Linked DNA regions of Homo sapiens. The protein of the gene in region 2 interacts with the protein of the main gene of each other region in a pairwise test. Each region holds a gene or a part of one and is shown on either strand. Other genes may lie near its edges.

The links. Proteins that work in one complex are often made in the same cells at the same time.
Region 1: the proteins of DEPTOR (region 2) and CCDC110 interact in binary tests that used the Homo sapiens proteins (3 or more experiments, as listed by UniProt).

The regions. Positions count from the first base shown.
Region 1 is NC_000004.12:185,468,712-185,475,739, forward strand, and holds the start of CCDC110 (coiled-coil domain-containing protein 110), read right to left. Parts: upstream 3,023-7,028; 5' UTR 2,973-3,022; coding exon 2,963-2,972; exon of another isoform or gene 2,720-2,962; intron 2,405-2,719; exon of another isoform or gene 2,339-2,404; coding exon 2,234-2,338; intron 1-2,233.
Region 2 is NC_000008.11:119,876,711-119,883,733, reverse strand, and holds part of DEPTOR (DEP domain-containing mTOR-interacting protein), read right to left. Parts: intron 1-7,023. UniProt on the Homo sapiens protein: Negative regulator of the mTORC1 and mTORC2 complexes: inhibits the protein kinase activity of MTOR, thereby inactivating both complexes. DEPTOR inhibits mTORC1 and mTORC2 to induce autophagy.

The sequences.
Region 1 (7,028 bases), on a different chromosome or scaffold from region 2:
CTCCTACCACCCTGTTTAAAATGACACACTTCCCACCCACCTCTGCCACTCCAAATATTCCTCCCCCCCTTCTCAGCCTTATGTTCTCCATAGAATTTATTCCCCGCTTACACACAATAGCCTTTGTCTGTCTGTTCCCTCACTAGAAGGTAAGCTCCATGTGGGCAGGGAATCTTGCAAGTCTTGTTCACTGTTGGATCCCCAGCACCTAGAACAGCACTTGAAACTTAGCAGGTGCTCAAAAGAATATGCTCCACAAACGAATGAATGAATGAAAGCTCGGGTACAACAGGGTGCTGGGAACAACACCCTGGACACCCTCAAATTCAAAAGTCTCTCACAAACCCATTCCAATAAGGGTTAATTAGGTTAACCACTAGTTCTGAAATCAGAGACACCTTGGGAACATTCTATAACTCTTTGTAACCTGGCAGTAGTTATGCAAATCAGGTCATTATTTTCTCAGTACACGGGGAATGGATCACTTGGTGACAATGAAAGCATCAGTAGGAGAGTAGAGAGAAGGGCGCCAGCCATACCTCCTAGTTTTGCCTATAGTTGCAGGCAGGAAATTCCTGGGTGGCCCCTGACTCAAGATAACTGGTGTTTATTAAGAACCTGTCCTGTGTCAACCCCAGACCTGTAAACACTGTGTTCTGGCAAGAAAGACTGTAACTCTTAAACATGTACATGTGCTATTTTGCATGTAACTATTTTCTATAAATGTTGGCATCTTTCTCCAGAACCCTAAGCCTCATTCATGTCAAAAAACATGTGATCTTGCCAAATTAAGGTACTTCTATTTCTTCTGACCTTACATGCTCTCTTTGAGGTAAATACGGAGCTACCTCAATGTCTCAACTCTCTGTGAGGACTCTTTCTCCTTCGTTCAGGGGGCCCCTTTGCCCCTCCTGGTTGCCCAGGGAAACCTGCATATCTCAAGGGTGGAGGCAGGAGGGCGGAGAGGGGACTGGCCAGTGCCTGTCCTGCTGGCCTCCACTGGGGTGTTGCTCATCCTGGTAGTGCCTGGGCACCCGGGTGTCTTCTGTCTACTGAGGTGTGGCTGCTCTAGTCTCTTCTTTCCGGGCCCTGACAAGGCTTTTTGTGAAGATCTTGCATGGTGGAGGTGCAGAAATCCTGTCCCAACCTCAGTCCTCTTGTGGTTCAGCACTTTGGCATCAGGATTGCCCATATCCTACAGAGGGGCAACTGGGGGTCCGGGCATGGCACATCAGTCTAGACCCTTCTCCTGCCCCGTGCTCTGCTCCTTCCCCGGCATGTCCCCTCACAGCAGGCTCCTCTGAGAGGCGTGTAGTCAGTCGCCTGGGACTCCACCTTCAATGTCCTCAGATTCCCCTAGCTGGGTACCCCCATCTTATTCATAATTTATGTGGTGCTTGAAAGCTTTAGCTATGTGGCTATTTCAAACATCCTCCCCATATAATATCCTGTAGTCCGTAAATATTTACTATAAAAAGTAGTTTTCTTTAGAAAAGGTATACACCCCTCCCTGGATATCCACAGGGGATTGGTTCCAGAGCCTCTGCGGATAGCAAAATCTGCAGATGCCCAAGTCCCTAATACAAAATGGGGTAGTATTTGCATAGCTTCTATGTGTATCCTGCTGTATACTTTAAATCATCTCTCGATTACTTGTAATACCTTATACAATGTAAATGCTATGTAAATGGCTGTTATACTGTTCAAAATTTGCATTTAAAAATTGTGGTACTGTTATTTTTAAAAATTTTCCCCCCTGAATATTTTCCATCTGTGGTTGGTTGAATCCAAGGATGCGGAACTCCCAGATACCGAGGGCTGACTGCATATCGTTTTAGTGTGTGTCCAAAAAACTCAACAATTCTTACTTAGCATTCAGAGAAGCAACGGAGCGTAGCGTGGTGGTGAAGACAGGCAGTCCGGAGCCGCCCTGCTGAATGCCCGCTCCATTCCTCGCTGCCTGTGTGACCTTAGGGAGTTAACCTCTCTGTGCCCGTTTCCTTATCTGCAAAATGGGGATCGTGGTAGCACCCACCTCGTAAAAGTGTTGTGAGAATTAAACAGTTGATCCATTACGTGCTTAGAACAGCACTGGCACAAAGCGCGAGTGCCGTGGTGGCTGCTGTCCGTGTCATCACGGCCGTGGGAAGCACGCCAGGTGAGCAGGTGGCACAGGCCAGATGCTGCCGCCTGTGTATAGTTAAAGGAGCCTTTTACGGTCTGGCGATTTTACCTGTGTCACTGCAGCCACTTTCCTTCACCCCCTCCGAAGAATTTAGGATCTTGGACGCTGAAAGGAGAACGGAGTCAACTTCATCCTCTTCCCGGTGCTGCTTTTCTGTAACAGAACCGTCCGGGGCTGTTCTGTCGCGGGTCGTGGCGTGGCGGGGCTGAAGGTGGGGGCGGGGCAGAGGGATGGGGCGGGGCAGGGCTAACGGCTGGGGCGGGGCGGAGGGAATTAGGAGGGGGCGGGGCTGAAGGCTGGGGCGGGGGGGCGGGGAGGGCGGGGAGGGCGGGGCGGAGGGAATTAGGAGGGGGCGGGTTTGAAGGCTGGGGCGGGGCGCAGGGATGGGATGGGGCGGAGAGACTGGGCGGGACCTGTGGGGGCAGAGGAATGGGGCGGGGTCAAGGCTGAAGGCTGGGGCGGGGCGGAGGGATGGGGCGGAGGGACGGCATCAGGCCGGGCCTGGGGCGGGGCGCGGCGCTTTCCGCAAGCGGCCACCCGAGGGCGCGCTGGGCGGGCGGCGGCGGCAGACCACGTAGCCAGCCTGTAAGCCACAGCGGACGCAGGGGGCCGCAGCGGGTGCTCAGCCCTAGGGCCGAGCGGGAGATGTGCGGCGAGTGCAGAAGGGCGGACCCGGGATGTCCCGGGTTTTCGAGCGGGGAGCCGCCTGCTGAATGCCCTTCTGCTGCCCTCCGTTCCCGCGGCTCCCCTAGGAGCCCCGCCCCGTCCAACTCTTACCCGGGCTCATCGCCGCGGCTCATCTCTCTCGCAACCGCCGCCGCACGCACCCGCTCCGCCGCCCCGCGCAGGGCATCCTGTCGCCAGGTAACCGGGTGGCCGGGGCGCCGGCCCCACCCCCACCCTCGGCGGCGCGCGCTCGGCTGGGGTCCCTGGTGGGGTCCCGGTGGGTCCCTCCTCACTCCGGACGCTTCCCCGAGAGCTTCCCTGGGAACCTGGCCTGGGACAGCCCACCTGGGCGCCTCCCCGCACACGCGCGCGGCTGTCCGGGACGGGCTTGCTCACACTCGGACTCGCTGCGGTACCCGCCGGACCAAAGCGGTGCGGAGAAAGGGACCGCCCGGGGACGGACACACGCCTGAGAGCTTTCCCTTTGCCTTTCCACATCTCCACTTCATCGCTGTTGTTTTTTTTTTTTAATTCTTAGTCCTCTCATTTCAGCGCATCCCTCAGAGGAGTTTCAGCATTTGGGGATTTGAACGGCCCATGACCAATATTGTGAAAGGACTTTTGTTTGCTGCAATGAAAAGAAGACTCCTATTTTTCAATAATGAATTAACCTAAACATGTATTAAAATATGCTCATGAAAGCTGTGGGAAGCGACGGTGGGCTTCCTTTGTCTAAGCATGTTAATTTTTACGCACCTGGTGTATCACGTGCAGGATTGATGTTGCGTTCACGGGAAACCTGACCTCCTTTAACCAAGGACTGGGTGCGTGCCCCCAGCTAATCCTCCTGCCCATCAGAAAATGGTGCTCTTTAAAGTTTTAAACGAGTATATATTATTTATTTTGTAGTAAACCATCACACATAGAAAATTAAAATTCAAAATCACAATCACCAGGATATCATAATTTGCTATATAATAACATATAATATATAATAAGTAATACATGATGGCTTGCTTTCATTGAAATGAAACTTCTTATGATAGTTTCAGTGCTTACTTCCTCTAATTTGTTTCTTATAGAAATGGGCTCTAGTGCACGCGCCTGTAATCTCAGCTACTCAGGAGGCTGAGGCAGGAGAATCGCTTGAACCCAGGAGGCGGAGGTTGCAGTGAGCCGAGATGGCGCCACTGTGCTCCAGCCTGGGCAACAGAGCCAGACTCCGTCTCAAAAAAACAAAAAAAAACAAACAAAAAAAAAAAAAAGAAAAGAAATGGGCTCTAGGTCCGGCATGATGGCTCACACCTGTAATCCCAGCACTTTGGGAGGCCGAGGCGGGTGGATCACCTGAGGTCAGGAGTCCGAGACCAGCCTGACCAACATGGTGAAACCTTGTCTCTACTAAAAATACCAAAATTAGCCAGGTATGGTGGAGTACATTCGTAATCCCAGCTACTCGGGAGGCTGAGGCAGGAGAATCACTTGAACCCAGGAGGCAGAGGCTGCAGTGAGTCGACATAGTGCAACTGCACTCCAGCCTGGGCCACAGAGCGACACTCTGTCTCAAAAAAAAAAAAAAAAAAAAGAAAGAAAGAAAGAAAAAAATGGGCTCTAGAAGATTTGACTTTCTTGTGGCATTGTAGACAATTTTAATAAATTATAATTTTGAGAATTTATGGTCTGCATTGCTGATTGATATTGATGATTCAGGAGATAGAAATTATTTAGGCAGATAGGGCAAAAGAGTCTTCAGCAGAACTTCTAACAAAAAACAGCTCAAGAAATCATTTTTTTTTCTAACAAAGAGCAGCCTGAAAGCCTGCAAACCTTGCAAAGATAGATCAGGAAGCTGGAAGCGTGCACACCAGGGCGCAGGGGGTTGGGGGGCAGCGTGCGGGTGGATGCCAGCAGCTGCGCTGATAGAAAAGGGCTACCTGGGGGCCAGGCATGTCCACCATGGAATCTCCATCTCCCCTTTTTTGTTAGCACGTGTACAGTAAGAAAGAGATGGGCGATATGGAAAAGCTCAGTCAGAGAACCCACCTGCGTAGTAAAAGATTGGGGTGGGGGCTGCCAGAGATTCATGCCCTATGCAGATGGCACACCTGGTCCTAACTGGTTTTTCACGCCCTATGTAGATCAGACTGCCTCCCCATTAGCTCATCTATAAAATTCTATAAAAAATATTTCACAGCGAATTGGCAACCCGGGGACCCCTTTCTGTAGCGGAGAGCTTATTCCCTTTCTTGTCGCCTATTACATTTCGGCTCTTAACCTCACTCTTTGTGTGTCTGCATCCTTGATCTCCCTGTGAGACAGCAAACCTTGGTGTCAGCCCACACAATGAGGCTGCTTCATTGATAAAGTTAATTTTTTTCCTGAGAGCTACACAAGTTTTCAGCAATATGTTTGTGAAATTACTACTGTAAATAAATTGCATTCCTTCAAAGGGTGAATGACAAAAAGCCACTACATTTTAGCAAGTCTGTTTTTATACTACTGAAGTTTCCACAATTAATTACTATATTGTATTTTATGTAATGCTAATTATTAATATCTAATCATTTGATAATTTATGTAATAATGTGTAATAACTCTAATTTGTCTATGTAATATTTGTGGACTATGATGACAAATTAATATCGGTTATTACATAGAAATTACTTGTGGATTTTTGTGGGAGCACTCAGTCATACCATTTAGTGTAGAATATAAAAAGCAGGTGATAGATGCTACAACATCAAACTCAGATTTAGCCAGTGCACTAATCTCAATAGAGAGTTACTTCCATTTTAAGCTACTTCCTAATCCATTCATCAGTCAGAAAAGCAGCTCTTTAGTTAGAAGGACACTTTATTTTAGATGTCCTATAAGGCCTTTTGATTATCACACTCATTTCTCTTTTGTAAAGCACATCACATATATATTCTCAGTTAAAACAAAAATTTTGTCAGAAAATTATTGCAATTAATATGTAAAAAGGCTGTCTTTGGAGCCAACAGTTATAATATTTTAAAAACTGTTTTCAATAATAAAGATGCCTATGATTTGAATATCACCCTCTCAGATGAACCCCCTCGTGAAGGGCCTCACATGAACATTGCGTGCGCCAACCCTGGTATTCGAGGTGGGAGAATCTGGAAGTGGTAATTAGAGCATTGACATGTCTCTAAAAAAATGGGGGTGGGAGGTGGTCACAGCCCTTTAGGGACATTCACTGCAGTGTGAAATGTATGTTGAGGGAGAAATCTTATTTGATCACCCATGGCCACTTAAAACCATTTTCACCTGCGCTTGAAACTACCTGCATTTTGAACTCCGTGGCTGACCGAATGATGGGCCTCTCTGAAAAGGAGTTTCCTTATCTGTACAACTGTGAGCCAGTAGTGAGGATGAGTGAAATCCCAGGTGAAGGGCCTACTCCAGGAGAAAGCAGAGTGGTCACATACGGGGCTGACAGTGAATGGCAGGTCTAGAGCCCCGTCTAGGGTGGGATTCCATAAACACTTTTGAAATTTTTTTTTCCTGTGGTTCTTCTTTGAAAAAACTTGACACTTCAGTGGAAAAAGATTCAATTATTGTAGCTCAAATATTAGAAAAAATGTATATTTTAAAGAGATAGTAGAATGTGTTGTCTAGTTTATATTGTGTGTGAACTTTGATGAACTTGCCAAGCTTCTAAAAATAAAAAAATTGTTTGGGCATCTCAGTGAGTGCGTGTTTAGATGGCCTATAAAATGAAAATTTCTCGGCCGGGCACGGTAGCTCACGCCTGTGATCCCAGCACTTTGGGAGGCTGAGGCAGGTGGATCACCTGAGGTGCGGAGTTTGAGACCAGCCTGTCCAACATGGAGAAACCCCATCTCTACTACAAATACAAAAAATTAGCTGGGCATGCTGGTGGGTGCCTCTAATCCCAGCTACTCACTCGGGAGGCTGAGGCAGGAGAATTGCTTGAATCCGGGAGGTGGAGGTTGCTGTGAGCCAAGATCGTGCCACTGCACTTGAGCCTGGGCGACAGAGCAAAACTCCGTCTCAAAAAAAAAAAAAAAAAAAAAAAAGGCTGGGCGCAGTGGCTCACACCTATAATCCCAGCACTATGGTTTGGGAGGCCGAGGCAGGCGGATCAAGAGGTCAGGAGATCAAGACCATCCTGGCTGGCTAACACGGTGAAACC
Region 2 (7,023 bases):
AGATAGGAGGACACAAGGATCAAAGCAAACAAACACAGTCAAACAGATCTATAAGTAGCAGCCTGAGAGTTATAGGTGGAAAGACTTGAGCCTTGAGCCTCCCTCAGCTGCTACCTACCTCCTCCTCTGCAGCTGCCACGGGCTTCCCCAAGCTAGAGGCCATGACATTTGTTCCCTTTTGCTACACCCTAGCAACAGCTGTTATCTGAAAAGTGGGAATACTAAAGCATATCCTTCTTTTTTTTTTTTTTTTTTTTTTTAAGACGAGTCTCGCTCTGTCGCCCAGGCTGGAGTGCAGTGGCGCGATCTCGGCTAACTGCAACCTCCACCTCCCGGGTTCACGCCATTCTCCTGCCTCAGTCTCCTGAGTAGCTGGGACTACAGGCGTCTGCCACCACACCCGGCTAATGTTTTTGTATTTTTAGTAGAGACGGGGTTTCACCGTGTTAGCCAGGATGGTCTTGATCTCCTGACCTCGTGATCCGCCCGCCTCGGCCTCCCAAAGTGCTGGGATTACAGGGGTGAGCCACCGCGCCCGGCCCTAAAGCATATCTTGTCTCACACTGCAGGGTGTGTTTTCTCTCCTCATCTCCCCACCCAACCTCACAAATATTTGTAAAGCTACCAAAAAGTGATTCTCTGCAGCCAGCCCTGATGAAAATAGCTCAAGTTGATCCTGAAGGTACCACCTTGCAAGCATCCTATCTGTCCCACTAAATCCTCTCCCCAACTCCATCTTCACGATGTCCCCCGTGTATCTAATGATACATAGAAACAATCACTGCCATAAACTTCTAAGTTTAGTTAAGGCTGATAATACTAGAACAAGGATCTCAGATTTGGTACCCACCTCTCCTTGGTAGATAATGGAACACGGAAAAGTATAATTACCGTGTAGAAAGTAGGACCGATTGTTCTTTCCTTTGTCATTTCCTAATCACTAAACTCATGGAAACCAACCATTTAAGAGCCACCAATGAAGGGGAAATGAACTCCTGACTCAAATGAAAGCTAGAAAGAACAGGACAAGAAGCTGGTGCTGATGGCCTCTAATATCAGCACTTTGGGAGGCTGAGGTGGGAGGATTGCTGGAGTCCAGGAGTTTGAGATCAGCCTGCGCAACATGGCAAGACCCCATCTCTACAAAAAATACAAAAATTAGCCAGGTGTGGTGGTACATGCCTGAGTCTCAGATACTTGAGTCTCAGATACTTGGGAGGTTGAGGTGGAAGGATCACAAGAGCCCAGGACCCAGAGGTTGAAGTGAGCCAGGATCATGCCACTGCACCTGGGCAACAAGAGTGAGACACTGTCTAAAAAAATAAAAATAAAAATAAATAATAAAAAAAGATATAAAACAATGTATTTTTTTCTAAAATTTAAAAAATTAAAAAAGAAATAACACAACAGGACAGAAGAATGACCTTCCTTCACCTTGCATTCTCTTCTCTTGAGGTTTAACTTATTTTCAGTTTTATTGATTCCAAAGCTGATGGAAGCCATAACTTATATCAGCAATGGCCTTTTAGAAAAGTAATTACAAGGCCGAGCGCAGTGGCTCATCCCTGTAATCCCAGCATTTTGGGAGGCCAAGGCGGGTAGAAAACCTGAGGTCAGGAGTTCGAGACAAGCCTGGCCAACGTGGAGAAACCTCATCTCTACTAAAAATTAAAAAATTAGCCGGGCGTGGTGGCGCTTGCCTGTAATCCCAGCTACTCAGGACGCTGAGGCGGGACAATCACTCGAACCTGGGAGGCAGAGGTTGCAGTGAGCCGCGATTGCACCACTGCACACCACCTGGGTGACAGAGTGAGACCCTATCTCAAAAATAAATAAATAAATAAATAAATAAAAATAGAATAAACATTCTACATGAATTAGGCTCTTGACCATTGACTCCAAATACAGGGACTCTTCATTTCCTAAAGCCCTTCTTTTTCAAAAATCTGTATAGGCAGTAATTTACTGACTCCAGGATATCTCTCTGCTGTTTAGGAGAAGAAAATTTCAATCCTAGCTTCTAAGGGACACCCCCTAAGATATTCTTATACCAACCGTAAAGTTCCTTAGGTGCCTACTTGAATAAAATGAATTATTTCTCCTTGTCCTGTTGTGTATGCTCTAAATTCCTTATCTCATATTCGATTTATTAGAGCTTGATCTTTGGTTCAAAGGCCCATTTTACCTTTTTTTTTTTTATTATTTTTTTTGAGACAGAGTCTCACTGTGTCTCCCAGGCTGGAGTTCAGTGGTGCCATCTCAGCTCACTGCAACCTCTGCCTTCCTGGTTCAAGCGATTCTCCTGCCTCAGCCTCCAGAGTAGCTGGGACTGCAAGCACGCACCACCACCCCCAGCTAATTTTTTTGTAATTTTAGCAGAGACGGGATTTCACTATGTTGGCCAGGCTGGTCTGGAACTTCTGACCTCAAGTGATCTGCCCACCTCGGCCTCCCAGAGTGCCAGGATTACAGGCCTGACCCACCACACCTGGCCTGTTTTTACCTTTTTTCTGAAAACTGCATTAACATTTGCAAAGCAAATTTAGGAAAGCAATTCAATATTTATTAAAGACGTTTTTATTAAAAAGACAATAGTAAGCCTGTAAGAGCCTGAAAGGCAGCCTGTTATAGAAAAAAGGCAAAGGTGACAAACAATTTGAAAGAACTGCATTTCCTCCAACTTAGCTAACTAAATTCATAGCCTAGTAAGTTGCTTTTGGGAAGTCAGCCTTAGTGATTGGATAAGATTGTTGTAATCAGCACACTTCATCTTGGTAGAGGAGCAAAAGTGAAATTAATTATGAATTAATGAAATTAAATGAATTAAAGTGAAATTAATGATTGATGCATTTTCTCTCTATTTAAGCATTCCCTTTATTATACATTCTGAATTCTCTTCCTTACCCTACTCCCATTCTCACAGATGGCAAAATAGAACTGCAATTTATCTTCCCATTAAAATGGTTACAAATTCTGAATCAGTGGAGTCCAAATTCACTTTTTAAAACCACATGTCAGAAAGATTGAGTTTAATATTTAGTAGAGAAAGTGACAATCCTACCTTGTCAAAATATAAATACTCACAGGAATAAATCAGATTTTCCCCAACAGAATGGAAAAGCTACTTGTCTACTTTTTTATTTACCAAAGTTGTCACACTGCAATGTGATATTCTCATATACATGATTCTGTTTTAAAGTTGTTTTAGTGTTTCATTTTTTTTAACCCTCTAAGTCACTAGTTGGGAACAGTATTGTAGCTTATCATAGTGCTTAAGAGCAGAAACACTCAACTCTACCGTAACTTTCTGGCTGAATAATCTATGGCCTGTTGGTTTAAATGATCTTTTCCTCAATTTTTTAATCTACAAAATAAAAGTAATAAAGGTATCTGCTACATAGAGTTGCTATAAAGATTAAAGGCATTACCATACATAAAGTGCTTAGAAGAGTCCTTACCAGGTAATAGGTGCCATGTAAGTGTTATTGTTATTATTATAATTGCTACCATTGCTAGAAAGAGAATAGTGATATTGTTGGGCTTCTTTATTTTATTTTATTTTATTTTATTTTATTTTATTTTATTTTATTTTGAGACGGAGTCCCGCTCTGTCACCCAGGCTGGAGTGCAGTGGCGCAATCTCGGCTCACTGCAACCTCTGCCATCTGGGTTCAAGCAATTTTTCTGCCTCAGCCTCCCAAGTAGCTGGGACTATAGGTGCCTGCCACCGTGCCCAGCTAATTTTTGTATTTTTAGTAGAGACGAGGTTTCACCATCTTGGCCAGGCTGGTCTTGAATGCCTGACCTCGTGATCCACTCGCCTCAGCCTACCAAAGTCCTGGGATTACAGGCATGAGCCACCATGCCCGGCTAATTTTGTATTTTTAGTAGAGACAGGGTTTCTCCATGTTGGTCAGGCTGGTCTTGAACTCCCAACCTCAGGTGATCCACCCACCTCGGCCTCCCAAAGTGCTGGTTACAGGCATGAGTCCCCGTGCCCGGCCCTTGATTATTTATTTATTTAAGACAGAATCTTGCTCTGTCACCCAGGCTGGAGTGTCATGGTGCAATCTCAGCTCACTGCAACCTCTGCCTCCTGGGTTCAAGCTATTCTTGTGCCTCGCCTCCTGAGTAGATGGGACTATAGGCATGTACCACCACGCACAGATAATTTTTGTATTTTTATTAGAGACAGGGTTTCTCCATGTTGTACAGGCTGGTCTGGAACTCCTGATCTCAGGTGATCCACCCACCTTAGCCTCCCAAAGTGCTGGGATTAATAGGCGTGAGCCACTGCACTCAGCCCTGTTTTTGATTATTATGAATAGTACTGCTATGAACATCTGTGTACAAGTTTTTATGTAGACATGTTTTCTCATTTCTCCTGGGTATATACCTAAAAGCAGAATTTCTAGGTCATATGATAACTCTATGTTTAATATTTGAGGAGCTGCCAAATATTTTTCCAAAGGGGCTGTACCATTTTACATTCCCACCAAGTAGTGTGTAGGGGTTCTAATTTCTCCACAATTTCTCCACATCCTCACAAACACTTGTGACTGTCTTTTTTGTTATACCCATCCTGGAGGCTGTGAAGTAGTATCCAAATGCATTTTTTTTTTTGAGACCGAGTTTTGCTCTTGTTGCCCAGGCTGGAGTGCATTGGCGCGATCTCGGCTCACTACAACCTCTGCCTCCCAGGTTCAAGCAATTCTCCTGCCTTAGACTCTCGAGTAGCTGACATTACAGGCATGTGCCACCACGCCTGGCTAATTTTGTATTTTTAGTAGAGATGGGGTTTCTCCATGTTGGTAAGGCTGGTCTTGAACTCCCGATCTCAGGTGATCCGCCCGCCTCAGCCTCCCAAAGTGCTGGGATTACAGGTGTTAAGCCACCGCGCCTGGCCCCAAATGCATCTTTAAGATGCAAAAATTGAAATACATTGGGAGAAGGAAGTAAAATCTTTTATGACAAGGGAAAAACATGAAGAAAATTAAACAAAGGGTCCTGCAGTTAAGCTGAAAAAGGAAGCAAGAGATATTTTTAGGTCTGTTAGTTAATTTCTTGTCCTTATACAACCAACCGCCCTTTAAAAAGTGTGAGGATTGGCCGGGCATGGTGGCTCACGCCTATAATCACAGCACTTTGGGAGGCCGAGGCGGGCGGATCACGAGGTCAAGAGATCGAGACCATTCTGGCCAACATGGTGAAACGCTGTCTCTACTAAAAGCACACACACAAAAAAAATTAACTGGGTGTGGTGGCACGCACCTGTAATCCCACCTACTCGGGAGGCTGAGGCAGGAGAATCGCTTGAACCTGGGAGGCGAAGGTTGCAGTAAGCCGAGATAGTGCCACCGCACTCCAGCCTGATGACAAAGTGAAGATGCTGTCTTAAAAAAAAAAAAAAAGTGTCAGGATTGGCCAGGTGCAGCTCATGCCTGTAATCTCAGCACTTTGGGAGGCTGAGGTGAGCGGATCACCTGAGGTCGGGAGTTGGAGACCAGCCTGACCAACATGGAGAAACCTCGTCTCTTCTAAAAATAAATAACTAAATGAATAAATAAAATACAAAATTAGCCACAATCTCCGCCTCCTGGGTTGAAGTGATTCTTGTGCTTCAAGAAAAATAAATTTAAAAAATAGAAAATAGGGCGTGCCTGTAATCCCAGCTACTTGGGACGTTGAGGCAGGAGAATCTCTTGAACCCGGAGGCAGAGGTTGCGGTGAGCCGAGATCGCGCCATTGCACTCCAGCCTGGGCAACAAGAGTGAAACTCCATCTCAAAAAACAAAACACAAACAAAAAAAGAAGCGTCAGGATTGTGGAGCCAGCCCCCAATTTCACATCTGGAGGTTACAATAGTCATAACAACACTCTTCTTGCTTTATCGATTTATTTTACAAAGTTTCTTCCCATGCTGTACCCTATTTGATCCACTACCACAAATCTTATGTGGGAAGATATTATTCCCATTCTGTAGGGAAGGATGCTTAGGACTAGAGAGGTTAAGTGACTTGCTCAAGAGGGCATAGCTACAATTAAAGAAAGAAAAAGAAATTGATAGAACTGGGCCTAGAGGCTAAATTTTTTATTTCAAATCCCAGTCCTTGGTTTCCTCTTATCACCTCTACCTCATCTCTGATGACCCAGAAAGTAATGCAAAGTGAGAGAAAGCAGAGGGGAACTGAGAGTGTGTGAAGCACTTAGAGGCAGGAGGCCTGGACATTGCAAAGCACTTACAATCCTGCAGTGAGAGGGGAGCTACAGACAGAAGAACTCTTTGTGAAAGTGACAAGAATGACTGAACTTCCAACCCTCCAATAACTAGGAAACCAGGCATACGACCGCTTTAATTCCTAAATTCTGACTATTATACTGCTCTGTACTAACAGAAGTATATTGAATACTTACGATATTCATTTAACTACTTACTGAGTAGTTACTATGTGCTAGTTACAGTGCCAAAACAGTTGAGATAAAAAACAGCAATGATTAAAATTTTCCAAAGTAGAATTAAGTGGCTAACATTTCCTAAGCCTTTTACATGTAGCATCTCATTTAATCCTCACAGAGCTCCTGAAGAAGTGTCATCAGAATAACATTTCGTAGAAGAGGAAACTGAGACACAGAGAGGCTAAACATATTGTCCTAAAGTTACAGAATAAATGGTGGAGGCAGAATAAGAACCCAGGCAGCCTAGTTCTATATCCTGCGCTCTTCACCACCACCCAATCCTTCCTGCCCAATCTTGCTTGGCTGGAAGTCACATGCAGTGATGCAGAGAGACCAATAATACTAATTAATTCCAGGAACTATTTGTTGAATGCTCATTAATACATGAAGCCCAGGGGCAAATTCTCGCAACTCCATGAAATACATTCATCTTCATTGTCTTTTTCAAATGTGGAAACAGAGACTCAGAGAAGTGAATTTACTTGTCCAAGGTCACAGAACTCTACCTTAGCTAATGTTGACCTGGTGCTTACTACATATCTATCAGAAACTACCCTAAGCGCAACT